Linked DNA regions of Homo sapiens. The protein of the gene in region 1 purifies or fractionates together with the protein of each later gene. This does not show direct contact. Each region holds a gene or a part of one and is shown on either strand. Other genes may lie near its edges.

Region 1 (3,500 bases):
AGTAATCCCACTAGTTGGTATCTATCCAAAAGAAAGGAAACTAGTGTATCAAAGGCATACTTGCACCCCCATGTTTATTGCAACACTATTCACAATAGCCAAGATACAGAATCAACCTAAGTGTTCATCAGTGGATGAATGGATAAACTGTGGTAAATATACTCAATGGAATACTATGTAGTTAGCCATAAAAAAGGATGATATCCTGTCATTTACAGCAACATGGATGGAACTGAAGGTATTATGTTAAATGAAATAAGATAAGCCAGGCACAGAAAGGCAAATATTACATGTTGTCACTCATATATGGGAGCTAAAAAAGTTGATCTCATGGAGGTAGAGAGGAGAATGATAGTTACCAGAGGCTGGGAAGGGTTTGGGGTTGGGGGAAGAGGAGAATAAGGAGAATTTGGTTAATGAGTACAAACATACAGTTCGATAGAAGGTATAAATTCTAGTGTTCAATAACATAGTAAAGTGATTATAGTTAACAATCTGTTGTATATTTCAAAATAGCTAGGAGATTTAGATGTTCCTAACACAAAGAAATGATAAATATTTGGGGTGATGGACATCCTAAATACCCTGATTTTATCATTATACATTATGCGCATATCACAAAAATATGTCTAAGTGTATAGCAATAAAAATGTGGAAAAAAGAATATCTATAATTTGGTTCAAATTATTACAGTAGGACAGGCGCAGTGGCTCACACCTGTAATCCTAGCACTTTGGGAGGCCAAGGCAGGTAGATCACTTGAGGTCAGGAGTTCAAGACCAGCCTGGCCACCATGGTGAAACCCCGCCTCTACTAAAAACACAAAAAATTAGCCAGGCGTGGTGTCACACGCCTGTAGTCCTAGCTACTTGGGAGGCTGGGGCGGGAGAATTGCTTGAACCTGGGAGTTGGTAGTTCCAGTGAGCTGAGATTGCACCACTGCACTCCAGGCTGGGCAACAGAGCAAGACTCCGTCTCAAAAAAAAAAAAAAAAATCTTAAAGTAAAGTATCTTTGGACTTTGCTATGGTCGAAAAAAGGAAGTTGGAGAAAACACTCTTTCCTTTTGATTGAGAGACATATGCAAAATGTTTGTTGCAATACAGTTTATCTGTTTCTCTTTTTTCCTACAACGTATTTTCTCTTCTCTTACAGGAATGATTTCCCTGATGAAAAGATCCCTACCCTAAGGGAAGCTGTTGCAGAGTGCCTAAACCATAACCTCACAATCTTCTTTGATGTCAAAGGCCATGCACACAAGGTACAGTTTAAATTGTGGACTTCACTTTGTTAAAAAGACATCTTATTTCATTGACGGTCATTTCCGAAGTTACATATATTTTGTTATTTATTCTTTTTAAAACTTATTTTTATAAATTGTATTTGTTTAATGGAAGTGTACAATGCAGGAATCTATATCATTTAAGGAAACAGTGCATTATGGAACTTTTTAACCTTTTATGGAAACTTTACAAAACCAGCATAAAATGGAAGAGTCAAGTTTCTATTATTTACATAAAGCATTTACAAAAGATATTAAGTAAACAGTAAAAAAGACATTTCTAGAAAAAAACCACTGTAGTAACCTTGAGTTACTTGAAAAAAAGGAATTCCGAAGTTGTACACAAGACCAATTTTATCTAGCTTAAAAGTTAAGGGCCTTATATGGACAACTATGGACTGCATTTAAAGAGAATTCCTATATTAAAAGCTTCTAATAGTTAACAGAACATATACCTTTTACATAGATTTATCCCTTTGTATAATTTATATCCCTTATGTATAGTTTTTTATTCATTGATTTTAGCAGTTATACTTTTATCAGAAAATCATTTATTTTCTTCAAATGTATTTGACATTCCTAGATAAAATTTTGCTTAAATTTTAGGGCCTGCACTTACACTCATAAGAACATATTATTACAGTGAAAATCAGTGGGAAGATATGATTCTGATTACATTTGTTCTCTTATAACCAGCTTTTCAAGTGCAAGTACTTTTTTCCCCATTTGGGCAACTTGAGTATTTTTCCCCTAGCAATATTAATAATCGGTAAGGGCCATCTACTGGTTGAGAATTCTGATGATGCCAATTTTTTTTTTTAATTAATCCCATGATATCATTGAAACCAGTTGTTAAAACCCAAAATGGGCCGGGTGCAGTGGCTCACACCTGTAATCCCAGCACTTTGGGAGTGGATCACCTGAGGTCAGGAGTTCGAGACCAGCCTGGCCAACATGGTGAAACCCCTGTCTCCACTAAAAATACAAAAATTAGCTGGACTTGGTGGCGGGCACCTGTAATCCCAGCTACTCGGGAGGCTGAGGCAGGAGAATCGCTTGAACCGGGGAGACAGAGGTTGCACTGAGCCGAGATTGCGCCAGTAGTACTCCAGCCTGGGTGACAGAGCGAGACTCCGTCTCAAAAAAAAAAAAAAAACCTGAAATGTGGAGCCTAAGTATACACTCTAATTTTATTAACAGTTAATTCCTATTTTTGAAGAAGGAAGATAATGGTAACTAATTTATTATTCTAGTAAACCGATAGTTGTATACGTCTAGGTTTTCCAATTGGTCTGCGTTAGAATCACCTGTACCTATTTTAAAATATAAATTCCTGGGCCATTCTCCCTAGGGAAGAGATTCTGAAAATGTCTAGGGTGGGCTCAAGGAACATGTATTTTTAATGAGCACCTCAGGTGCTCATTGTTGATGTTGCAGCCCACATTTGGGAACCCTGATAGGTCCTACATTTCACCCATGGTATACTGACTTTTATGCTTATTCTCTTAGATTTTTTGAGACAGAGTCTCACTCTGTCACCTAGGCTGGAGTGCATTGGCGCGATCTCGGCTCAATGCAACCTCTGCCTCCGGGGTTCAAGCAATTCTCCTGCCTCAGCCTCCCAAGCAGCTGAGATTAGAGGCATGTGCCATCACACCCGGCTAATTTTTGTATATTTAGTAGAGATGGGGTTTTGCCATGTTGGCCAGGCTGGTCTCAAACTCCTGGCCTCGAGTGATCCGCCCACCTTGGCCTCCCAAAGTGCTGGGATTACAGGTGTGAGCCACCACGCCTGGCTTCTCTTAGAATACTTTTTAAAAAGAAGTAGACATTTAAAAAAGAAAATCTAGCTATTTGAGTCTTCTGAATGGGTGCTCATGGGTGTTCAGCCAAGACTGGGTAGAACATAGTGACCTAATTCACCAAGATGGTAGTAGAAAGGCACAAGTGTAGGCAACAAAGTGGAGCTAGTAGAGCACAGTGGCCAAAATCATGGGCTTGGGACTCCAACAGTCCTTGACTGAGCTCTTACTACAGGGTAACCTTAACTTTGATGAGCTTCAGTTTCTTCATGGGTAAAATGGGGATACTAAAAGCAGTTACCACATAAGGTTGTTGTGAGAATTAAATAATGTAAATGCTAAGAGTTTACAGTGCATGTCTTTGTTCAAACAGAAAAAAAAATGCTTTCTATAGCTTGCCTTCAGTTGCATTAGCGA
Region 2 (3,500 bases), on another chromosome or scaffold:
TTCAGCATAGGGACTCTTGGTGAAGACCTAGTCGTTTTATTTAAGTACTCTCAAATGTCGCTGTCTCTTGATCTTGTTTTTGTTACTGGGTGTTTCTCACAAAATGGACTTACCCAATTTATTTTTTTTAGGACATATAAACCTAGCTGTCACTATTCTGAGATGATCAAGAAGGGACTGAGGACCCTTCAGTTCTCTATGCCAACTTTCTCATGATTTTTTTTTTTTTCATTCGGTATGACTCTTCAATCTGATATCCACTCTGCCTGGTATCCAAGCCCCAGTTGAATTCTCTGATTCAACCTCTTCAGAGAATAAATCTCTGGCGGGACTAGGAAGGGATAGGGGGCTGGCCGAGGGAGACTGGGGCAAAGACCTCCACCTTAAATTCACTCCAACTAATCATATCATTTGTAGCCCCAACTTGAACTTCAGCTTCCAGTTTGTGAGTATTTTTGGGATTCTGAAGTATGAATTGACTTATTTCTTACTGGCTTATGCCTTGGATCATGTAGGTATCAAGGTTTTTTTTTTTTTTTTTTTTTTTTTTTCCCCACTCATCCTAGGCAATGTGACTTCTCAACCATTTGTGTCCTGTCTTTACATTTTTATTTCTATCTCGTCTCTAGTGTTCTCTTTACTCATTTTGATTGCCCTTATGGGTTTTAATTTTAGTATTGTTTTAGTATGAATTGGTAAGGGGGAGAGATAAATACATGTTTTCAAGCCATCAAGTTTCACTGGAAGTTTTCACAGTTTCTCTATTGTATTTTTTAGTTTCTTTAGATCATCTTGGGCTTACCCTTTCCTGGTTCACCCTGGGATGACTTTTTTTAATATATATTAGGTCATTTATATTACTTTGTGTGGGAACTGCTTTGCTTTCTTTTTATTTTAGGAATTTTTGCTTCAATTCAATGTGCCCTGGAAAAATGTCTTTTCTCTTACCTTATCAAACTGGAAATGGCTTCGTTTTCTCTTTCAGCAGGATGCTATAATATCCTGTTTTTTTCTGAGTCCTTTCTGTTTGCTGCCCTTTTAAAAAATATATTTTTTCTTTTTTTAAAATTATACTTTAAGTTCTGGGGTACATGTGCAGAACATGCAGGTTTGTTACATAGGTATACACTTGCCATGGTGGATTGCTGCACTCGTCAACCTGTCATTTACATTAGATATTTCTCCTAATGCTATCCCTCCCCTAGCCCTGGTGTATGATGTTCCCCTCCCTGTGTCCATGTGTTCTCATTGTTTAACTCCCACTTATGAGTGAGAACATGTGGTGTTTGGTTTTCTGTTCTTCTCTTAGTTTGCTGAGAATGATGGTTTCCAGCTTCATCCATGTCCGCGCAGAGGACATGAACTCATCCTTTTTTATGGCTGCATAGTATTCCATGGTGTATATGTGCCACATTTTCTTAATTCAGTCTATCTTTGATGGGCATTTGGGTTGGTTTCAAGTCTTTGCTATTGTGAACTATGCTGCAGTAAACATACGTGTGCATGTGTCTTTATAGCAGAATGATTTACAATCCTTTGGGTATATACCCAGTAATGGGATTGCTGGGTCAAATGGTGTTTCTAGTTCTAGATCCTTGAGGAATTGCCACACTGTCTTCCACGATGATTGAACTAATTTACACTCCCACCAATAGTGTAAAAGCATTCCTATTTCTTCACAGCCTTTCCAGCATCTGTTGTTTCCTGATGTTTCAATGATCATCATTCTAACTGGCGTGAGATGGTATCTCATTGTGGTTTTGATTTGCATTTCTCTACTGACCAGTGATGATGAGCTTTTTTTCATGTTTGTTGGCTGCATAAATGTCTTCTTTTGAGAATTGTCTGTTCATATTCTTTGCCTACTTTTTGATGTTGTTTTCTTTTTTCTCTTGTAAATTTGTTTAAGTTCTTTGTAGATTCTGGATATTAGCCCTTTGTCAGATGGATAGATTATAAAAATTTTCTCCCATTCTGGAGTTTGCCTGTTCACTCTGATGATAGTTTCTTTTGCTGTGCAGGAGCTCTTTCGTTTAATTAGATCCCATTTGTCAATTTTGGCTTTTGTTGCCATTGCTTTTGGTGTTTTAGTCATGAAGTCTTTGCCCATGCCTGTGTCCTGAATGGTATTGCCAACGTTTTCTTCTAGGGTTTTTATGGTTTTAGGTCTTACATTTAAGTCTATAACCCATCTTGAGTTAATTTTGTATAAGGTGTAAGCAAGGGATCCAGTTTTGGCTTTTTACATATGGCTAGCCAGTTTTCCCAACACTATTTATTAAATAGGGAACCCTTTTCCTATTGCTTTGTTTTTGTCAGGTTTGTCAGAGATCAGATGGTTGTAGATGTGTGGTGTTATTTCTCAGGTCTCTGTTCTGTTCATTGGTCTATATATCTGTTTTTGTACCAGTACCATGCTGTTTTTGTTACTGTAGCCTTGTAGTATAGTTTGAAGTCAGGTAGTGTGATGCCTCCAGCTTTGTTCTTTTTGTTTAGGATTGTCTTGGCTATGCAGGCTCCATATGAAATTTAAAGTAGTTTTTTCCAGTTCTGTGAAGAAAGTCAATGATAGCTTGATGGGGATAGCATTGAATCTATAAATTACTTTAGGCAGTATGGCCATTTTCATGATATTGATTCTTCATATCCATGACCATGGAATGTTTTTCCATTTGTTTTTGTCCTCTTATTTCTTTCAGCAGTGGTTTGTAGTTCTTCTTGAAGAGGTCCTTCATATCCCTTGTAAGTTGGATTCCTAGGTATTTTATTCTCTTTGTAGCAATTGTGAATGGGAGTTCACTCATGATTTGGCTGTCTGTTTGTCTGTTATTGGTGTATAGGAATGCTTGTGATTTTTGCACATTGATTTTTTATCCTGAGACTTTGTTGAAGTTGCTTATCAGCTTAAGGAGATTTTGGGCTGAGATGATGGGGTTTTCTAAATATACAATCATGTCTCTGCAAACAGAGGCAATTTGACTTCCTGTTTTCCTAATTGAATACACTTTATTTCTTTCTCTTGCCTGATTGCCCTGGCCAGAACTTCCAATACTATGTTGAATAGGAGGGGTGAGAGAGGGCATCCTTGTCTTGTGCCGGTTTTCAAAGGGAATGCTTCCAGTTTTTGCTTATTCAGTATGATACTGGTTGTGGGTTTATCATAAATAGCTCTTATTATTTTGAGAAACATCCCATCAATACCTAGTTTCTTGAGAGTTTTTAGCATGAGGGGCTGTTGAATTTTGTCAAAGGCCCTTTCTGCATCTTTTGAGATAATCATGTGGTTTTTGTCCTTGGTTCCGTTTATGTGATGGATTACATTTATTGATTGGCTTATGTTCAACCAACCTTGCATTCCAGGGATGAAGCCGACTTGATCATGGTGGATAAGCTTTTTGATGGGCTGCTGGATTTGGTTTGCCAGTATTTTATTGAGAATTTTCTCATCCATGTTCATCAGGGATATTGGCTTGAAATTTTCTTTTTTTGTTGTGTCTCTG
Region 3 (3,500 bases), on another chromosome or scaffold:
TGTTTTTTGCATAGGAATGACATATTTTAAAATCAGGAAAAAAAACTGAGATAAAAACACCATAATATTAGGTTTTCTAGAGAAAAGAAAAAGCTTACAACTAAGCCCCCAAATGTGCGGGGAGGCCAGGGGTCTCTTCTCAAAGGGGCCCTTCCACCTAGGAAATGTCTGCCACAGAGCCAGCAGCCCTGGAGATCAGCTCACCCGACATGCCGGGGGACAGCACCATGAAGAAAGAGACAGCTAAGACAAAGCACAGTTCTGACATTTTTATTCACTGATCATAAATATAGTCTCATGAGCATTAAGGTGATCATGAATGATGTACTAGCACCTGGAACATGACCATCATGGAGCACTCACTGATTCCCCATCACTGGCCAAAGAAGTCGGGGCATCTTCCTTTCACCAAGTGTTCAACTTTGGAGGGACCCTCCTTCTGGTGCAGCAATTTTATTCTTGGCTTGTTCTCAACAATTAAAAAATCATAAAAGACTGAGTGTTTGCAATAAAATATCAAAGAGGATAAGAAGATTTTCTGTTCTTCTTAAAGTCTAAAGTAAAAAGGGGAGGTAGGGAAGAAGGAAAGGAAAGGGGAAAGATGTCAGGGATCTGCCACGTTTCTTCCTTCCTCCAGAGCATTTTACAAAAACAAAACCGGGGAGGTATTTATTAATGCTGTTTGGAGATGGGTTGCGTCTCTCTGATGAGCCACTCGAGAGCTTCCTGGCGGCCCTGTTTCTGCAATTCCTTCCCAATCACATCCCTGCAGGTCAGGTGGTAATTGTTGAGCCAGTCGCACTGCAGGGAAGAGAAGGACAGACACGGTATTCACCACTACATCTTTAACAACTGGCTACACAGGTCAACAGCAAAGGCCCCCATGTGCTAAGATCACAAGCTGAGAGAAAAGGTGTGCAACACCCTTTCTCCTTACTCACAGGTAAGTATTTTCCTTGTGTTCTGTTTCCCCGGAAATACATAGGACCAGACTTCATGGCTTCTGGTGAAAAGGCTCCCAGAACAGTTTACTATTATAGACAGCAGTCTCTAAGCCAGTAGCTCCTGCTCCCACCTGTGTGGCTTCATTCCCTTAAACCTGAGCCATCCTGGGAGGTGGTAAGTGGGGGAATAGCCCCGGACTCTGTGAGAACTCCTGCTGAGAGAGACACTCGAAGCTGTCCTGCCAACACACTGGGCTACATATCCTATATCCACTGAAAAAGCTGAATAAAAAACTAGGATCAGCCAAGCCCATGGGTGTCTTTTGAGTGTAGCTGCCTAGATGAACCCAAAACCTGCGGTGGTTAAAGACTGTGGTGCAGCAGAATGGCGCTGGGAGTAAACTTAGTTTTCAGACTCTCAACTCAACATGCCACAAGAGCAGGAGACAAAAAAGAGAGTGAAAGGAAGGACCTGCTGGCAGGACTTGGTGCCTGGGCAGGGGCTGATCCACTAGACATGATGGCAAAAGCTCTGAGGCAGGAAAAAGGGTGAACTCTCCTCCTTGGTTGTATACGGGAAAAGGTGAAGTCTGGAGTGAAGCAGGTTTTACCAAGAGGACAACAAGCCACTCTCATCACTGTCTATGGGGGTAGCTGTCTGGAAGCTGATGAGACTGATAGTGCCATGGCTGTGCTTGTCATAAATGAGTCAAAGGCCATTTTGGAGGGCAGCGATGTTACAGAAGTACTGCTTTCAGGGACTACAATCCAGCCAGGTACCAAAGCCCAGCTGGGGTCAGGATGGGCACACAAACCCATTAATTACAAGGGACTGAGGGCAGACAGATAGGGTGGTGTTACCAACTGGCTGTGACCCAGCCAGGGTTCCAATCCCTACTGAGAAGAGCCTAGTAGCCCCTTCTGGGAGTCAGGGAAGTGATGGGGGCAGGGGAGGATGTCAAAAGCAGGCAAACTGCTATGTGTCCACAGCAAGGCCAGCAGGGCTACAAAGCAGCCTACTGTCCAAAGCAGCTCAACAGTAAGGCAACGGCAGCATCCTGGTGTAAGCCTGGGGCCACAGCCAAACGCCCATGGCCCTTTTGGTTGGAAGTAGGGAGGGAAAAGTGGGAGTGTGGACAGCCTCGGTGGAGCCTGAGGAGCAGCACAAGGCCCTGACAGTCTGCAGCTGGCCATATTCATATCTGACCAAGGTCCTTTGCTGCCATCTGGTGATAAGTGATGACGATGCAGACCCAAACCAAAAACTCCCTAAAGTGACTCCAAAATAAAGGCTAAATAGTAAAGGGCAAATGACCAGATATTTTAAAAGCCAGATATTTTAAGAAGACATTATCTGCCCTACAAAGAGTAACTGGCCGAAAGAATAGTTCAATCATGTGGGCATGCAAGGTGCAGCAATGAAACACTGGGTAACACAGATCCCTGGTCTATGTCCAATGTCACGGGAGTAGACTGATTCTCCTTCGAGGAAAAATGGCCTGGCTTAAACTTCCTCATATACTACTTCCCTGGATAAAGGGGAATGTCATATGGGAGAAATGCCTCCTGATGGGTACACTTTATGTGGACAGGAAGGACTGCATGACCTAGAATTACTTGGCAGGAATCCATAGCCTTGGACTTCCAAGAGTGCGAAATGACTTATTACTGGAAAGCCCCTTGCTAAGTCCCTGGAAGCTGTGCCCAAGGGCCATTACAAGAGACACTGGTTCCTATGGGGCAGAGGGATTCTAAGCAGGGTGGGTCCCATGCCCACCTATGTGTTTTCATTTCCTCTCAGCTAAGGCAACACTTACAGGGGCTGGACAAGAGCCCCTGGACACTGGAAGGACTCTTCCTGCTGAAGAGACACACCAGACATTGTGCTGATAGGCTGAGTTTCCTTTTCCATATCCATCTACAAGCTGCATAACCCACCCGGTATCAGCAAGGCCCATGTGGGTCCTGTGAGTGGGAATGTTTAGCTGAACCAAGGGCACGGATGGTTAAGCAGAGGCGCTCAAGCACAGAGGAAAGCTAAGCAGGAAGTGGATGGACTTTCTCATCACCCACCTGTGAACTGGAACAGGCAGAAGAGGCTTCTAGCTGGGAGAATCCCATTCCACAGCTCCTGTGGAAGGGAAGGTCCTTAACCCCCAAAGACCCTTTCCTTTACAGTGTCAAGAACGAGGCCCAAGTGGGCGCCAGTGAGGAAATGTTCCTGCCTTGAGAGGCACTCAAAGGCCATTGGCTGCCTCAGATAACAAAATATTCTTATTCCGAGAGTAACCCACCGTGCTTACCCTGCCTTCGGCTCCCACCAGTCATTTGCTTTTCATTGGAACTTCTGACCCCTGCCTTGCTCTGGAATTTGTGTCCTCCTGGCTTCCAGCTTCCTGGTTTGGGAACTGTTTTGTCTGTCTAGTGCTAACAGTTCCTACCCCATTTCTGACCCTTGTTTCTGCTCTGACCTTGAACATCTGTGTGATTCTTCAGGCCTTTCTCATGTCCCCAGGACTGCCATCTGACCTGGCCTTACCAGTCCAGGGTCTGAAG
Region 4 (3,500 bases), on another chromosome or scaffold:
GTGGGCAAAGGAGGAATAAAATAAAATAATCCCTAATATTGTATTGCCTTATGATTTTCAAATATCTTGGGGCTTACTTTAAATAGCTTAATTGCCATGTGTATTGCAGATGATTAAAAACTTGGCAAGGTGTGATTTATGTCTACAAAGCAAGAAAACTATGAGGTGTTTCTTTTGTTGAAAAATAATGACTTTAGTTTGTAATTGAAGTGTAAAGAATTTCATGCAAGCAAGTAGTCCCTCTACTCCCCAGCCCCCCATCCATGCCAATATCTGCTTTTTTCCTCATGCAACAAATAAATCTTATCTCTGAGAGTGTGATCTGTGGTTTAAAATTCCGACCTCTCTGCCTTTCCTTGCAGTGTTGGGAAGGTGTGGAAGGATGCTGCCTTGCTGCTTGGTGCAGGCGATTCTTCCTAGTGATAAATTGGATTCCTCCCAAATCTCTCTGAGCCACACCCAGTGTCACTCAGGGACTTAGTGAATTAATTAAGCTGAGCCATTTTACTTAATATAATTGAAGCTTCTCGTTCTTTTTTTTTTTTTTAATAGTGATTTTCACCACAGGTTTCCAAATTTAAACAGAAAAAATATTTGAAGGGCATTTTCTTTCTTTTTTCTTTCTTTTTTTTTTTTTTTTGCCAAATTATCTGGACTTGCAGAGAACCTTAGAAAATTCATGGTGAGTCTAGAAAGTGTTCATTTCTGGTGACTCTATAATTCCTTCTAACCCATGCCAGGGCGCATACACAATGAGCCCTGATCTCTCCTGCTGACAGAGTCTGTGTAACTCTCTTCCCCACCCCCTCCCCTACCAACCCATGCTGAGGCAACTGGAATAAGAAAATGCAGAGTTAATTTTCTTTCTTGCTGAGCTGGCAAAACTACAGAAACCTCCTTTGATGTTTCAAGCTAAAGGGCAGTACTCCTGTTCACCGAGAGGGAGAGTGGCTTGGGGTCTCCTTTGCCTCTGTCATAGTGAAATTGCCAGTGTTATTCCTGGGGCTGAATTAATCCACAGACTTCAGAATTTTACCTGGCCCCATAAGGAAGGGTACTGGTGTTCTTTCAGGCAAGAATAGAGCATATATATTAACCAATCGTATTGATAAAGTAAGACAAGTCTTCCTCTATTAATAGTTCAAAGAATGCACATAACCAGGTCATCTCAAGAGAAGGTATAGCAGCATTTAACTATTCACTTCCCTATTAGTATTAATAAAGGCATTAGGGCAACCAAGCAGTGGCTGTTGCAAACCAAAGAAGTGATTTCATACAGGAATTCTCCCTTTTCAATTTGTGAAGTGTGGTCAGGTGGCTTTTGTACCTTTGTAATTAAATCTTCATAACATTTTCAGAAGTGTTGGGAAGAATATTATACTGTGAGTCCTTAGTGGAGGCCACTTACTGACTGTGAGCTTTAATAAACCACATCACCTTGGGTTTCAGTTTCCTTCTGTAGAATGAAGAGTAAAAACCAAAAACCAGACACAAATGAACACTTTGCTTACCTTAAGGATTTTTGTAGGGCTTAAACATACTTGATGTGAAAATAAAGATCAATATAAGAAATTTTTATTCTCCCCAAGTTTTGCAATTTGAGGCTTGTCTTAGAGGCCCCAGTTTTGCAGGATGATCTAGTGCCTGCTGTGTCTACCTTTCCCTGTTAGAGATGAGTTCCTTCTAGTCTTAGTTGAGCCTTCTGCTTGTGCTCTTGCTCCTCCCCCCGTGTTTTCCCCAGAGCCCCAGTCCCTCATGCCCTGCTCTTTCTTGAGATTTCATCTTCTTGTGCTGCACTGGCTCCTTTCCTTATAGTTTATGAATATGCTTTTGCCTCATCTATCTTAAAAGATTCTCTCCTGACTCTATGTCCCCATCTCTATAGTTCTCTGTCTCACTCTCCCTTTAGAACAAAGTTCCAAGTACTCTCCACCCTCATTTTCTCCTCTTCTTCACTCCCCATTCACTATTCCATCTAGTTTAATTTGGCTTTGATTTTCATAATTTCACTGAAAAACATATTCTGAAAGGGTGTCACATCCAGTGACCCTTCATTTTACATCTTATTTGATGTCTCTTTGGCATTTTGTGTTGTTGTCAATCCCTGTTCCTGAAACTGTCCCCTTACTGGGTCTGCATGATATTAATAGCTCTCCTTATTCTCCCTCTCAGATAAGACCCTGCTCAGTCTCCTTATAGGCTTCTCTTGCTCTCTTCACCCACCTCCCCAAATCTATGATCTCCTGGATCATAATCTTCATTCATTCCACTCTTCTCGTTTGACTCACTAATCCTAGGTGATCTCATCAGGTCATCCACATCCAAATCTTTAGCCACCTGTGTGATTTCCAGATCTGTAGATCAGATGTCTGTTTTTAGCTTCTGATCCATAGTTATCTTGGTCTAAGTGCTTCATTTCAGAGACAAGTTTGTTAGGTACAAAACCCAACTCAGTGTCTTCTGTTGTGTATCACACTTGATCTTCCTCACTACAATTATTGCTCTGATACTGTCCATCCAGCCTCAGAGCTCTAGGAACCTGAGAGTAATCCTGAATGTATTTTATTTCAACTCCCATATCCAGTTTCTAAATCCTTTGATTCCTTGATTCTTGTTTAAAAGATTGAATAAATCCTCTGCTTTTCTACCCTGTTTATATAAATAACCTGGCACAGACTTTTCATGACTACTCATCTGGACAAAAGCAGTAACTTTCTATGTGGAGTTCTACCACCACATTGTTCTTTAGTTTACCTTGCAAATAACACCACAGCTATCTTTACAAAATGCAAATCGGGTTTTGTTATTTTCTTTGTTAAAATATAAACTCTTCAGCATCAATGACACAATCTAGTTTTGCCTGCTTTTCTAGTGCCAAATTCCAACAGCCCCCCTGCTCTTTTTTTTTTTTTTACCTGATGACACCATGCCAAGATTTCAGGCCTTGGTGCCTTCGCTTGTACTCCACTCTCTGCCCATGTTACCCTTCCCTCTCAGCCTGAAATATTCCCACTTTCCCTGCAAGAGTTAGCTCTTTGAAGCCATTCTTAACCTTCCTAATTAAGTTTTCTTCTACCTTCTTTTTGCCCATGCTGTATTTTGTACTATCTCTATTATCACTTATTGCACTATTTGACATTTATTTTTTCACATTCTGGTGTCTACCCTGTGAGCTTCTTGGGGAAAAGGATGAAAACATAATTCTTGTTTTATCTCTACCATAATACTTGGTACATAAAATAACTCATGTTAACCATGAATAATCTGTTTGCTAAATAAATATGGAACCAGGTTTATAGTCTTTTCACAGGCTGTAGCATATCTAAATGGATAGAATCACTAGGAGATTTTTAAAAAAATGTCTTGGCATGAAATTTTAAAGTGGAACTGATCATCAGTGATTCTTGTTATTCACTTATAGACATGACAGCCATCAGTTTTTAATAAAAGCAGCCACAAAATGAACCCATTTATAGACTGTATTTCTCTGAACTCTCATA
Region 5 (4,254 bases), on another chromosome or scaffold:
TTGAGCAGACCAGTTATTAGGAAACTTTCTTAACTCTATTTTTTTATTTTTTATTTTTTGACACGGAGGTCTTACTCTGTCACCCAGGCTGGAGTACAATGGCGTGATCTCGGCTCATTGCAGCCTCCACCTCCTGAGTTTAAGCGATTCTCCTGCCTCAGCATGCTGAGTAGTTGGGATTACAGGTGCTTGCCACTACGGCCAGCTAATTTTTGTATTTTTAGTAGAGATGGGGTTTCACCATGTTGGCCAGGCTGCTGTCGAACTCCTGACCTCAGGTGATCCTGACCTCAGGTGATCCACTCGCCTCAGCCTCCCAGAGTGCAGGGATTACAGGTGTGAGCCACAGAGCCCGGCCTCTTAACTCTATTTCCACAAGAGTTTTTCCTGTTAGTTACTGATTACCCATTGTGTCTTTTTCCTCGAATCACCTGGGAGGAACTATCTTTAAATAAGTGTCGTCCTGTAATGCACTACGGCCGTCTGTGGGTTACCACATTAAGGATAGTTGTCAGTGGCCTCCATGCCTTTCGGTAAGTTGTTTTTTTTTTTTTTTTTGAGACAGAGTCTCATTCGTCGTCGAGGCTGGAGTGCAGTGGCACTGTGTCGGCTCACTGCAACCTCTGTCTTTCCTGGGTTCAAGCAATTCTCCTGCCTCAGCCTCCTGCATAGCTGGGATTGCAGGCATCCACCACCGCACCCGGCTAATTTTTTGTATTTTTAGTAGAGACAGGGTTTCACCATGTTAACCAGGATGATCTCCTGACCTCCTGAACTGCCCGCCTCGGCCTCCCAAAGTGCTGGGATTACAGGCGTGGTGAGCTGCCACGCCGGGCGTACTCTGGCTTTTAAAAGAATGGGGCACATTGCTTTTTCTTGACTACTTCTATCTCTCCTTTTCTCTCTCTCTCTAACTCTGTCTCTCTCTCTCTCTGGCTCTCTCTGTCTCTTTGACTCTGTCTCTCTCTGTCTGTCTCTGTCTCACTCTCTAACTCTGTCTCTCTCTCTGACTCTGTCTCTGCCTGTCTCTCTCTCTCTTTGACTCTCTCTCTCTCTCTGACTTCCTCTGTTCCCTCTGTCAGTCTTTCTCTCTCTTTGACTCTGTCTCTCTGACTCTGTCTCTCTCTCTCTCTGACTCTCTCTCTCTCTCTGACTTTCTCTGTTCCTTCTGTCAGTCTTTCTCTTTCCTCTAAGATTTTTTTCCCTTTCTCTTAGAATCTCTTCTACAGGCTTATTTTTCTAGTTCTTTCTTTTGTAATTTGTGGTTAATATCTGGCCAACTGTTAGTGACAAATTCCTTGCCCAAGAGGATCCTCGACACCTCGACCAGCATATTTTCTCATTTGTTCTTTTAATCTGTCTAAAAATTATGTCGCAGGCCCTTTATCTTTTCCTTGCTGTATGTTAAATATTCGGGTAAGATTCTGGGTTCCGGGCATGGATTCTTTAATCCCCTTCATGATTAACTCCCCAAGGTCCTGCATATTTTCTCAATGGGCCACCGCGCCCGGCCAGAAGATTTTTATGGTAAAATTTTGTGATGGGAAAACTCATCCCGGAAAATGTTGAGACCTGATGCTGAGTCCTCAGCAGCTCAGAGAATACGTACTTCTGTCCCAGGTCACCCAAACATTGACCTGTGTCGGTTCCCCACTAGGAACAAAATGTAACTGAGGACGTTGTCAGATGCTTGTCCTCGTCACCCTGAGCTTGTTGGCTGCTATCTAATTCTTATTCTTTCATTTTCTTGCCCGCACGTTCTTGATAGCAGATCACTGACAACAGCCATTGGAAGCTTAGGAAAAGGGTATGTGCCGGGCGCGGTGGCTCACACCTGTAATCCCAGCACTTTGGGAGGCTGAGGTGGGCGGATCACGAGGTCAGGAGATCGAGACCATCCTGGCTAACACGGTGAAACCGTCTCTACTAAAACTACAAAAATTAGCCGGGTGTGGTGGCGGTCGCCTGTAGTCCCAGCTACTCGGGAGGCTGAGGCAGGAGAGTGACGTGAACCCGAGAGGTAGAGCTTGCAGTAAGCAGAGATCATGCCACTGCACTCCAGCCTGGGCCAGAATGAGACTCCGTCTCAAAAAAAAAAAAAAAAAAAGCATGTGTAACGTGAAAAAATGGACACTTTAGCCATCGCCTGACTTTCTGTTGAATTGGGAAAGAGCCTCCTCCCGTCCACATGGGATGGCCTTCCTGATGTGGCTCTCCAAGACCATCCCTGGAGGGCATAAAACCTCACAAATGCATCAGGCCGTGTGCTGGGGATGGGGCATCGTCACGCCAGGTCTGACTAGGAAGGAGGATGGGGAGGCAGGGCTGGGGGCTTTGAGGTCGAGGCGTGGCCGTGGATTCCAGAAAGCCCCTTGGCTGGTGTGCGTGCCTGCCCAGCGGCATCCGTGTATCCTAACACCTGCCCTCCGTGTCCCTGCATCTGCAGGCCATGTCAAAGGACGCCCTGAATCTGGCGCAGATGCAGGAGCAGACGCTGCAGTTGGAGCAACAGTCCAAGCTCAAAGTGAGTGGGGCCGGTGTGGGCGGGGAGGCCGGGGCACACATGGGGTTCGGGCGTGGAGATTGGTAGGGCTACTGCCGGTGGGTAGGGCCGGGGGTGTGTACATGGGCAGCAGTGGGGCCCAGGGCCAAGCTTGGGCGCCTCATTTCACAGAAGGAAACAAGGGGAGGTGAGAGACGCTGCCGCAGAGCCGCCCGAGAGGGAGGGCCGGTGTTGGTGAGGGCGTCTGGTCGTCCTGAGGGCCTGGATCTTCTTGACATTCTCACCTCATTTCTTTGACTCAGCAGGATTTTTTTTTTTTTTGAGATGGTGTCTTGCTCTGTCGCCCAGGCTGGAGTGCAGTGGTGCGACCTTGGCTCACTGCAAGCTCCACCTCCCGGGTTCACACCATTCTCCTGCCTCAGCCTCCTGAGGAGCTGGGACTACAGGCACCTGCCACCACGCCCAGCTAATTTTTTTTGTATATTTAGTAGAGATGGGGTTTCAGCGTGTCAGCCAGGATGGTGTCGATTTCCTGATCTCCGCCTGCCTCAGCCTCCCAAAGTGCTGGGATTACAGGCGTGAGCCACCGCGTCCAGCTCAGCAAGATTTTTTAATTTTATTTATTTTGAAACGGAGTCTCACTCTGTTGCCCAGGCTGGAGTGCAATGGTGCGATCTCAGCTCACCGCAACCTCTGCCTCCTGGGTTCAAGCCATTCTCCTGCCTCAGCCTCCCAAGTCGCTGGGATTACAGGCACCCACCACCATACTCGGCTAATTTTTGTATTTTTATTAGAGACAGGGTTTCACCATGCTGGCCAGGCTAGTTTTGAACTCCTGACCTCAAGTGATCACCTGCGTCGGCCTCCCAAAGTGCTGGGATTACAGGTGTGAGCCACGGTGCCCGGCCGGTCACCTTCAGTCCTGAGCTCACAGGCGGGGTTCACGTGTTGCCTGTTGTGGGCATTGTAGCTTTAACGTTTAATTGGCAGAAGACAGAAGCTTCCTTAAGCCCAGCCTGAATCAGGGCAGTGGTGTTGGGAGGTCGGCCAGCAGTGGCCCTTGTCAGGGAAGCCACAGTGGGGGCTGTTTCTGCCGCTGGGGAGTTTGGGCCCCTGAACCCATCCCCTCAGTGACTGCCGTCCCGGCCGATGTCACCCGTGTCTGTGTCAGGGTGCGGCGTCTGCAGGTCCCCAGGTGCCCGGGACGCTTGGAGCCCTGCGGTCCTGGGGCGGACGCAACCTCTGGATTGGTGTTGAGCATTTTTCTGGTTTTAAAGGCTTTTCTCTTTTTCTGCGGCTTCTTCTCAGCAACTTGTCAATGAGGATTTACGGAAGCAGGAGGAGTCCGTGCAGAAGCACCATCAGACCTTCTTGGAGTCCATCAGGTGAGCGCTGCCGAGGCCCGGGCCGGCCGCAGATGGAGCCCCCACAGGTGTGAGTCGCTGGTCCCAGGGTGCTCTCCAGCTCTCCCAGGTCTGGCCGCTGTAGGCTGGCTCCTTGGTGGGGACACTGCCCCCCTGTCCTGGCAGGACCAGGCTGCTGTGTCAAGGCCTCACCCTCAACCTGTTCTTGCTACGTGGCGTGGGTCTTTGTTTCCCTCCTGGTCACACCACTGCTTTCCCCACAGGGCGGCTGGCACCTTGTTTGGGGAAGGATTCCGTGCCTTTGTGACAGACCGGGACAAAGTGACAGCCACGGTAAACATACTCATAAAACAGGGCTGGCAGGTGGCTGAGGGGCAGCATGTGGGG
Region 6 (4,144 bases), on another chromosome or scaffold:
ACTCCACTCACTCAAGATTCACCGCGTTCCACCCCTCATAGGAGGGAGCGTGCAGGTGAGTGGGTGCAGGAGCCAGAGCGTGCGCTTTTGGACACCGGCAGGAGCGAACTCCGTGCAGGCCCCGGGGCAGTGTCCAGGCAGAGTGCCTGAGGCTCCTGAAGCCCCAGAGGGCATGTTACAGTGTTCTTTTGGCTCTGTCGTCCGTGGACAGCTTAAGTGTTAACAGCTCCGTGGGCCCGCGGTTGCCCTCCACCAGCAAGGGCAGAGGGCCAGCGTGACAGCTTTTGTATCCGCACTCGTGGCTCCCGAGCTCTTGTCCAGCGTCCAAGAAAAATAAAGCTGCACGAACAAATTAAAGGACAAATGCCTGGGATTTTATTGCTGATCAAAGTGGATTTCAGAGGGAAGGTGAGCTGAAAAGAGGGGGGTGGGACAGGCCGGTATGTAGTCTTCCCTTGAAGTCCAGCTATCTCCAGCCAGATTCGTCTCAGAAGTTACGCCTTAAGCTGTCCCTCTGAAGACAAGCTGCTTCTCTCTGACATCCAGCCATGGTCGTCCCCTCATCCAGCTGCTTCTCCTCTCTGCCAGATGAGTCTGGGGTCTTTCTAGGCACAGGATGAGGCAGGGCAGAGCCATGGGTGGCTTAGGAAAAGGCAACATTCAACTGGAAAAACATGGATAGAAGTTCTCACTTTGGGCCATGGTTTCAGGCTTTTTGGCTTGAGGGTGGGGTTTCACCAGGGACCCGCTCTTTTCTACCTAGCATTTATCTGCCTCCTGTCCCTATGCACTGCCTTTGTGGCAGAAAAAGGAGAGTGAGAGTTGGTTCCTCTCTTTCTCTGAAATTCTGAGCTAACATTTGGGAGCCGTCTACAGTATTCAGGTATGAATTTTCTCTCTGGGGGAGCGCATTCGTTTTCCTAGAGCAGTGTGCTTTTAATTGCTCCTTTAATATCTTTCTCTTTTGTGCCTTTTTAGCGCGAAAAGTGTATGGGAAGACTAGGTGCTCGTTAGCGGCTCGGTTAGAACTACATTGCCCACAATGCCCCAGGGAACATTTGTAGCTCTAGAACTACATGACCCAAAATGCCGAGTGGTGGCAAGAGGAGGATTAGCTTCCACTCCGATTTCAAAGATCCAGTTTACCCACTCTACAGCCCAGATATAGTCACTTATTTCCCCTTTCCAGCCAGAGACTTCCGTTCCCTGCTGGAACTTCCGATCCCATTCTTCTCTCGGTGGGAATGCTTGTGGGGGGAAAAAGAAACGCAATAGATAAAGCGGGGCGCATGCGCTCCCGGCACAGGCTTCGATTGTGAGGAAGGCCGGCTAGTCTCCGAGCTCATCCCGCCTTGCGCATGCGGAGAAGGTAAACCAGCGCCCCGAGTTGAGGCGCGGGTTTGGTGGCGCGTTTCAGCGAAGTCGCACGTGAAGGATAGCAGTGGCCTGAGAAAGGTGAGAGCGGGCCGAGGTCGGAATGTGGGGCAGCGCACGGGAAGGGGAGACAGCAGCCGCTGCAGGCGGCACCAGGCGGAGCCGCGAGGCCTGGAGAGTCCGAGTGGGGAGGGGTCCGCGCGCCCAGCGTGCGAAACAAACCGGGGACCCGGATCCCCGTTGCTATGCAACCGGGGGCGTCGTTTCCAGGCAACCCGGGAGGCGCACGTTTCCGGGGAGAAGAGGGTTGCGGCGAGGTTCCGAGGTCCGGCAGAGGTGGAGCGGCTCCCGGGCGTGGGGACCAGGCCAGCGCCAAGCCCGAGCCCCCGAACCCCGACCCACGGCCCAGCCTCCTGCAGCCTCGGCTCGAGCCCTTCGGGGGGCCCCAAACTCATGGGTCGCGCCACGTTCCTTGCCAGCGACGCTACCCCTCAGCGCTTGGCAGGGGACGCGCCGTTCGAAATAGCACATGCCACTGACACCCTGTCTCCGGGAGGCTGCGCCCCGGTTAGGGCGCGGAGCGGCAGGGAAGCTGCCCCTTTGCCGTCGCCCTGCCCCCAAACAGTTGCTGGGCAGCAGCTGTCAGGGGTTTAGTGGGAGCTGCCCCCAACCTGCCAGGGCGCTGACTTCATTCTCTGCAGTGGCGGCTTCGCCTTGTTTAGGACCTTCCTTTAGACTCAGCTGTGCTTCTCGTGTGGCTGCTGTATATTTGGATCTACTATTAAAATAACCTCCCTCCTCACCTCTCCATGGCTTTCTCGTTCGACCCTCACGGTTTCTTGGCAGGTTGCTAATATTCATTTAATAAACATTTATTAGTCATCTTTCCTACTAGGCGCTGGGGATTCCAACATGTCAAGTCTAACCGGGAGTCGCTCGGTCTACTGGGGAAGGCAGGTTGATAAACTGCTAAATTATGCTACGATATATAGTCAGTGGTAATGTGTGTGCTGCAACATTTCTATAGATGTTTAGTTTACAAAGCGCTTGCTGCAGAAATATCTTAACTCCTTACAGCAACTCTTCACCTGGGTTCACTCCCTTTTACGTTTGAGGAGACTGCAACTCAGGCAGGTTAAGTAACAGGCGTAAGGTAGTAGCTTCTAGTCCGTGGCACACTTGAGCCTGGGACGGAAGTCAGGGGTCCTTTGTACACTGCTGCACTTTTGAAGCTTTGCTTAGACTTTTCCCTGAGCTGCTGGCTATGCATCCGAAATTCCTGAGGAGCTTTGCAAAACAAAGGGCTGAGTCCCTCTCTGGAAGAGTCTGAGTGAGTAGCCCTGGGTGGGGCAGACGTCCTTGTTTAACAGGCTGCACAGGCAGTTCCGATGGGCAGCCAAAGTTGAGAACCGCCGCTCCTTAGGGGCAGCTATGAGCAGCGGCGGGACAGTCAGAGCCGGTAGAGGGCACTTTTTGCCGCCCCTCCTGCCACCTGGTGATTCATAGCATGAAATGAAACTAACAAAAGGAAAGAGAAGAGGAGGAAGGAGCCTTGATTGGGAGGGGGGGGCGCGAAATGCCCCATCCTACCCTTGTAGCAAACCACAGCTAAACATAAGCAGTGGCGCCTTCTCACTAACACAATAAGTAAAGCTGTTTCCCCAGCCAGGCTGGGCTCTCCAGACCCACCTGAGCCATATTGCAGCTGCCGAACAGAAGTGGCAGGTTTTGTCTCCCACCTTTTGCTGTCCTCTCATACCTCTTGGTACAAAACCATGGCCTGTAAGCCCAGAAGGCAGATGGTCTCCTGGTATGTGTTCCCTCGGAGGAGTCTGGATGTCCTTCCACTTTGAGCTTGTTGGTGAACTTCAGCTCCATGAGGGCAGGGACTATGTCCACTATCAAGGCAGCATGCGGGTATGGGACAAGCAAAAAGGCAAGATTGAGATCCTGGGTACTGGAGTCAAGTCCCAGCTCTGCTGTGTGATCTTGGATAAGTCACTCAACCTCTCTAAGCCATACTTTTCTGAGTAAGATGAAGAGGGTAATAATACCTTAAAAGATTGTTGTTAGAGTTAAATGAAGTGATGAAACAATAAGCACTCTGTGAATTATAAAGCACCACACAAAAATTATTATAACATATGTATATGTATAGATATGTATAACATTTGTATTATTATGAGTTGTTAATTGAGTGCCTATTATTTGTCTGAGGCCAGGCATTGCAGAAGGTGAAGAAGTTTTAAGACATGCTTCCTCCTCTCAGAGGCTGAGACTGTTTCCATGCCTTTAGTAAAACTATTTGATTAGGCCAAAGTGAGGAGGCCTAATAGCAGTGAGTCCATACTGCCTGAGATTCACCTGGAAAAAAATGAGAAGGAATCCTATTAAAGAAAACAATTTGAAAAAGCAGACCAGCCAGCCAATCTCTGCACTCATTATCTCCAAAGGATACACTACACAATCCTGTTAGGTTTGGTATCTGGTGCACTTCAGAACATCAGTCTGCATAACGATGCCAGCCTCACTGCAGAGGGCTTATTTCAAGGTCTCCTAGCTCCCCTTAACTGGGGCAGACAGCCACTGGAGAGTTGGGGCTGGCACAGAACAAGGCAGGCTGCTGTGGGAGGAGCAGCTTATGGCACCCTGACCTCCTAGGGCTGAGGAAACGATATTTGATCCCTCCTGGTGGAGGTCCTTGGATAAAGGATCCAACCCAAGATAGCAACCCTGCTCTTTTAAGTCCCCAACATGGTTATGACCCAGA
Region 7 (3,500 bases), on another chromosome or scaffold:
CGTGCCCCATGGTGTGCCAGGTAAACAGGGATCTCCTAGCTGCCCCCGCTCCACTGCTCTCCTTCTGTCCACAAGGTGGAGGCCGCTCTTCCCCTGGGCCTTTCCAGAGGAAATTCCCCAGCTGGGCTCTTTCCAGCCCCACCGCCCTGGTCCCTGGTCCCAGCTGCCACCTGTCTCACGGGAAGGTCTGCAGTTGCTGCATGTGGCAGGGTTCCTAAGACCATCTACAGGCTCACCGGTTCCCTAGGAGCACTGGCAGGACTCAGCATATAGTTGTCCTCACAGCCGTGATTTATTGTGACGGAAGGACGCAAACACCATCAGCAAAGGGAAAAGGTGCGCGAATTCCCGGGCAGGCCAGGCCCAAGCTTCAGAGTTCTCTCCCTGTGGAGTCATACGGGACACACTTAATTCCCCCAGCAGAGGGTGCCCACCAAGGACTCCCTGCCCAGGCTTTTTACTGGGGGCTGGTCATGTAGTCACCCTCTGCTTGACACGTGTCAAAATTCTAGACTCCCAGAGGGAACGCAGGTGTTGTCATAAACCACATCATTTGTGTCAACAGCCTAGGCCTGGCATCTCCAGGCTGCACTCTGGCCCCAGCTCTGCACCTGGCACAAAGAGGCCCTTTTTGTTTGTTTTTGTTTAGGATCTCACTCTGTTGCCCAGGCTGGAGTGCAGTGGCTCAATCACAGCTCACTACAGCCTCAACTTCCTGGGCTCGTGATCCTCCCACCTCAGCCTCCCGAGTAGCTGGGACCACAGGCCCATGCCACCACACCTGGCTAATTTTTGAATTTTCTGTAGAGACAGGGTCTTACCATGTTGCCCAGGCTGGTCTCAAACTCTTGGGCTCAAACCATTCTACTGTTTCAGCCTCCCAAAGTGCTGAGATTGTAGGCGTGAGCCACCACACCCAGCCCACCCTTGGTTAATAAGAGCAGGAGGGCTGTGGGTCCCACTGCTTAGCCAGTCATGTGGGCTGAAATGTGCTCCTCAAGAATATGTGTTCCAGTCCTAATCCTGGACCTGTGAGTGAGCCCTTGTTTGGGAGTGGGGTCTGCAGATGTGATAAAGTTAAATGAGATCGTCTTGGATTAGGGTGGACCCTCAGTGTAATGATTGCTGTCCTTATAAGAAGTGGGGAATTTGGACACAGAAACACCAAGAAACATAGGGAGAAGACGGCCATGCGAAATGAGAAACAGGGACTGGAGGGACGGAGCCACAAGCCAAGGAACACTGGGACCACCAGAAGCTGGAAGAGGCGAGGAAGGATCCTCCCTTGAACTTTCAGAGGGAGTGTGGCCCCACCAAGACCTTGATTTCAGACTTCCAGCCTCCAGAACCGCAAGTGGATGAATTTCTGTTGTAAACCACCCAGTTGGTAGTGGTTTGTTGCGGCAGTCACGGGAAACCATTATACCATAGCCCTGTTACATGCGGAATCTCTCAGCAGCGCCCATTGGTGCTTGACACCCAGAGATGGGGGAGTGGGGTCCACTGGCCATGATGGGCACACTGGTTCATACCTGTTGACACCCCAGGCCATTCAGAAATGTCTCCAGCCTTAATTCATTGAGTTCAACCTTTAAGAGGCCTTAGGCCAACTCAGTCACCTCACTGCTCAGACAAAGAATCAGAGGCGTCAGCATAGCCAGAGGACACTGTGCACCTGGCAGCCCCCTGGGGCCACTCATGGCCCCTCCAGGGACTTGGCAGAGTTAACGCACCCTCCCCCAGATGCAGCCACCGCGTGCAATCCTCTTAGCTTCCGTATCCACCACCTGCCCGGATTGTCAAACTCTCTGTGTTTTCGTCGCCACCCATTGAACCCTGGAGAAACAAACCTGATTGCAGAAAATCGCACGCAGCTTGGAATGAAAAACTACAGAGTAGGAACAGCCTCCTAATCATATGGAAGAAGCCCAGAATAGAGGCATCGGCAGCGGATCCACGAGCCCTGAATGCCTGCATTCATCAGGGGAGCAGCTGGCGCGTTCTGGAGGCGAAACGAGCTTGCTTCCGTGTCGAAGCTTTTCTAGTTCTGTTTGATGCGTAAGCTTCAAGGCATCCGAAGCCCTTTGGAATTCGTGTCTTATGCGTAGAAGTTTGAGTGCAAAATGCTTTACAGGAAGCCATACACCAACGTTGGATATTCTGGTAAAAAAGGTTTCTGTGAGCACAATTCTATAATTTCTTTCTTCAGTGTTTTTTTTTTTTTTGAGTCTGGTTAAAATGGGAACTCTGTAGCCCCGAATGGTCTAATAGCAAAAAAATGTGAGCCCCCTAGGTGATGTGAAGTTTTCTAGTAACCATGTCAAAAGAGTAAAAAGAAATGGTGAAATTAGTTTTTCTTCCTTTTTTGGGGGGGAGGGGGTGGGGAGTGGGGGGTAGGAGGGACGAAGTCTCACTCTATTGCCCAAGCTGAAGTGCAATGGCGCTATCTCGGCTCACTGCAACCTCTGCCTCCTGGGTTCAAGTGATTCTCCTGCCCCAGCCTGCCAAGTAGCTGGGATTACAGGCATGCACCACCACACCCGGCTAATTTTTCTGTATTTTTAGTAGAGACAGGGTTTCACTATGTTGGCCAGGCTGGTCTTGAGCTCCTGACCTCGTGATCCGCCCGCCTCAGCCTCCCAAAGTGCTGGGATTACGGGCATGAGCCACTGCGCCCAGCCTTTTTTTTTTTTTTTTTTTTTTTTTTTGAGACAGAGTCTTGCTCTGTTGCCCAGGCTGGAGTGCAGTGGTGCAATCCCAGCTCACTGCAACCTCCACCAACCCAGGCTCAGGTGATCCTCCCACCTCAGCTTCCCAACTAGCTGGGACCACAAGTGTGCACCACCACATCTGGCTAACGTTTGTATTATTATTATTATTTTTTTTTTTCTGAGACCGAGTATTGCTCTGTCGCCCAGGCTAGAATGCAGTGGCCGATCTCATCTCACCACTGCAACCTCCACCTCCCGGGTTCAAGCAATTCTCGTGCCTCAGTCTCCCGAGTAGCTGGGATTACAGGCACCTGCCACCATGCCTGGCTAATTTTTGTATTTTTTTTTAGTAGAGATGGGGTTTCACCATCTTGGCCAGGGTATTCTCGAACTCCTGACCTCATGATCCACCTGCCTCGGCCTCCCAAAGTGCTAGGATTACAGGCGTGAGCCACCGTGCCCCCCTAATGTTTTTTTTTTATAGAGATGGGGTTTTGCCATGTTGCCCAGGGTGGTCTCGAACTCCTGAGCTCCAGTGATCTGCCTGCCTTGGCCTCCCAGAGTGCTGGGATTACAGGCATGTGCCACCATGCCCAGGTGAAATTAATTTTAATAAGATATTTTAGTTAACCCAATATATTAAAAACAACTTATAATTAATAGAAAATTATCAGGTGTCTCACAGTTTTTTGGGTAACTAAGGCCTTTGAGACAGTCTCTATTTGACACTTAGAGCGCACATCAGTTCTGACTTGTCACATTTCAAGGGCTCAGCACACGATAGATGGC

Evidence for each region.
Region 2: the proteins of GDE1 (region 1) and CDK14 purify together in Homo sapiens (affinity purification with mass spectrometry; 2 studies listed by BioGRID and IntAct, with this or other methods). This does not show direct contact.
Region 3: the proteins of GDE1 (region 1) and XPNPEP1 purify together in Homo sapiens (affinity purification with mass spectrometry; one large-scale study listed by BioGRID and IntAct). This does not show direct contact.
Region 4: the proteins of GDE1 (region 1) and GAP43 purify together in Homo sapiens (affinity purification with mass spectrometry; one large-scale study listed by BioGRID and IntAct). This does not show direct contact.
Region 5: the proteins of GDE1 (region 1) and ATAD3C purify together in Homo sapiens (affinity purification with mass spectrometry; 2 studies listed by BioGRID and IntAct, with this or other methods). This does not show direct contact.
Region 6: the proteins of GDE1 (region 1) and TMEM109 purify together in Homo sapiens (affinity purification with mass spectrometry, with the first as the bait; one large-scale study listed by BioGRID). This does not show direct contact.
Region 7: the proteins of GDE1 (region 1) and BRI3BP purify together in Homo sapiens (affinity purification with mass spectrometry; 2 studies listed by BioGRID and IntAct, with this or other methods). This does not show direct contact.

The regions. Positions count from the first base shown.
Region 1 is NC_000016.10:19,508,599-19,512,098, reverse strand, and holds part of GDE1 (glycerophosphodiester phosphodiesterase 1), read left to right. Parts: intron 1-1,154; coding exon 1,155-1,260; intron 1,261-3,500. UniProt on the Homo sapiens protein: Hydrolyzes the phosphodiester bond of glycerophosphodiesters such as glycerophosphoinositol (GroPIns) and glycerophosphoethanolamine (GroPEth), to yield a glycerol phosphate and an alcohol.
Region 2 is NC_000007.14:90,728,821-90,732,320, forward strand, and holds part of CDK14 (cyclin-dependent kinase 14), read left to right. Parts: intron 1-3,500. UniProt on the Homo sapiens protein: Serine/threonine-protein kinase involved in the control of the eukaryotic cell cycle, whose activity is controlled by an associated cyclin.
Region 3 is NC_000010.11:109,864,512-109,868,011, forward strand, and holds the end of XPNPEP1 (xaa-Pro aminopeptidase 1), read right to left. Parts: intron 3,076-3,500; coding exon of another isoform or gene 3,018-3,075; intron 802-3,017; coding exon 673-801; coding exon of another isoform or gene 644-672; 3' UTR 255-643; downstream 1-254. UniProt on the Homo sapiens protein: Metalloaminopeptidase that catalyzes the removal of a penultimate prolyl residue from the N-termini of peptides, such as Arg-Pro-Pro. Contributes to the degradation of bradykinin.
Region 4 is NC_000003.12:115,626,510-115,630,009, forward strand, and holds part of GAP43 (neuromodulin), read left to right. Parts: intron 1-3,500. UniProt on the Homo sapiens protein: This protein is associated with nerve growth. It is a major component of the motile 'growth cones' that form the tips of elongating axons. Plays a role in axonal and dendritic filopodia induction.
Region 5 is NC_000001.11:1,448,235-1,452,488, forward strand, and holds the start of ATAD3C (ATPase family AAA domain-containing protein 3C), read left to right. Parts: upstream 1-1,454; 5' UTR 1,455-2,449; coding exon 2,450-2,524; intron 2,525-3,811; coding exon 3,812-3,888; intron 3,889-4,130; coding exon 4,131-4,200; intron 4,201-4,254.
Region 6 is NC_000011.10:60,912,814-60,916,957, forward strand, and holds the start of TMEM109 (voltage-gated monoatomic cation channel TMEM109 precursor), read left to right. Parts: upstream 1-1,344; 5' UTR 1,345-1,455; intron 1,456-4,144. UniProt on the Homo sapiens protein: Functions as a voltage-gated monoatomic cation channel permeable to both potassium and calcium. Plays a role in the cellular response to DNA damage.
Region 7 is NC_000012.12:125,014,145-125,017,644, forward strand, and holds part of BRI3BP (BRI3-binding protein precursor), read left to right. Parts: intron 1-3,500. UniProt on the Homo sapiens protein: Involved in tumorigenesis and may function by stabilizing p53/TP53.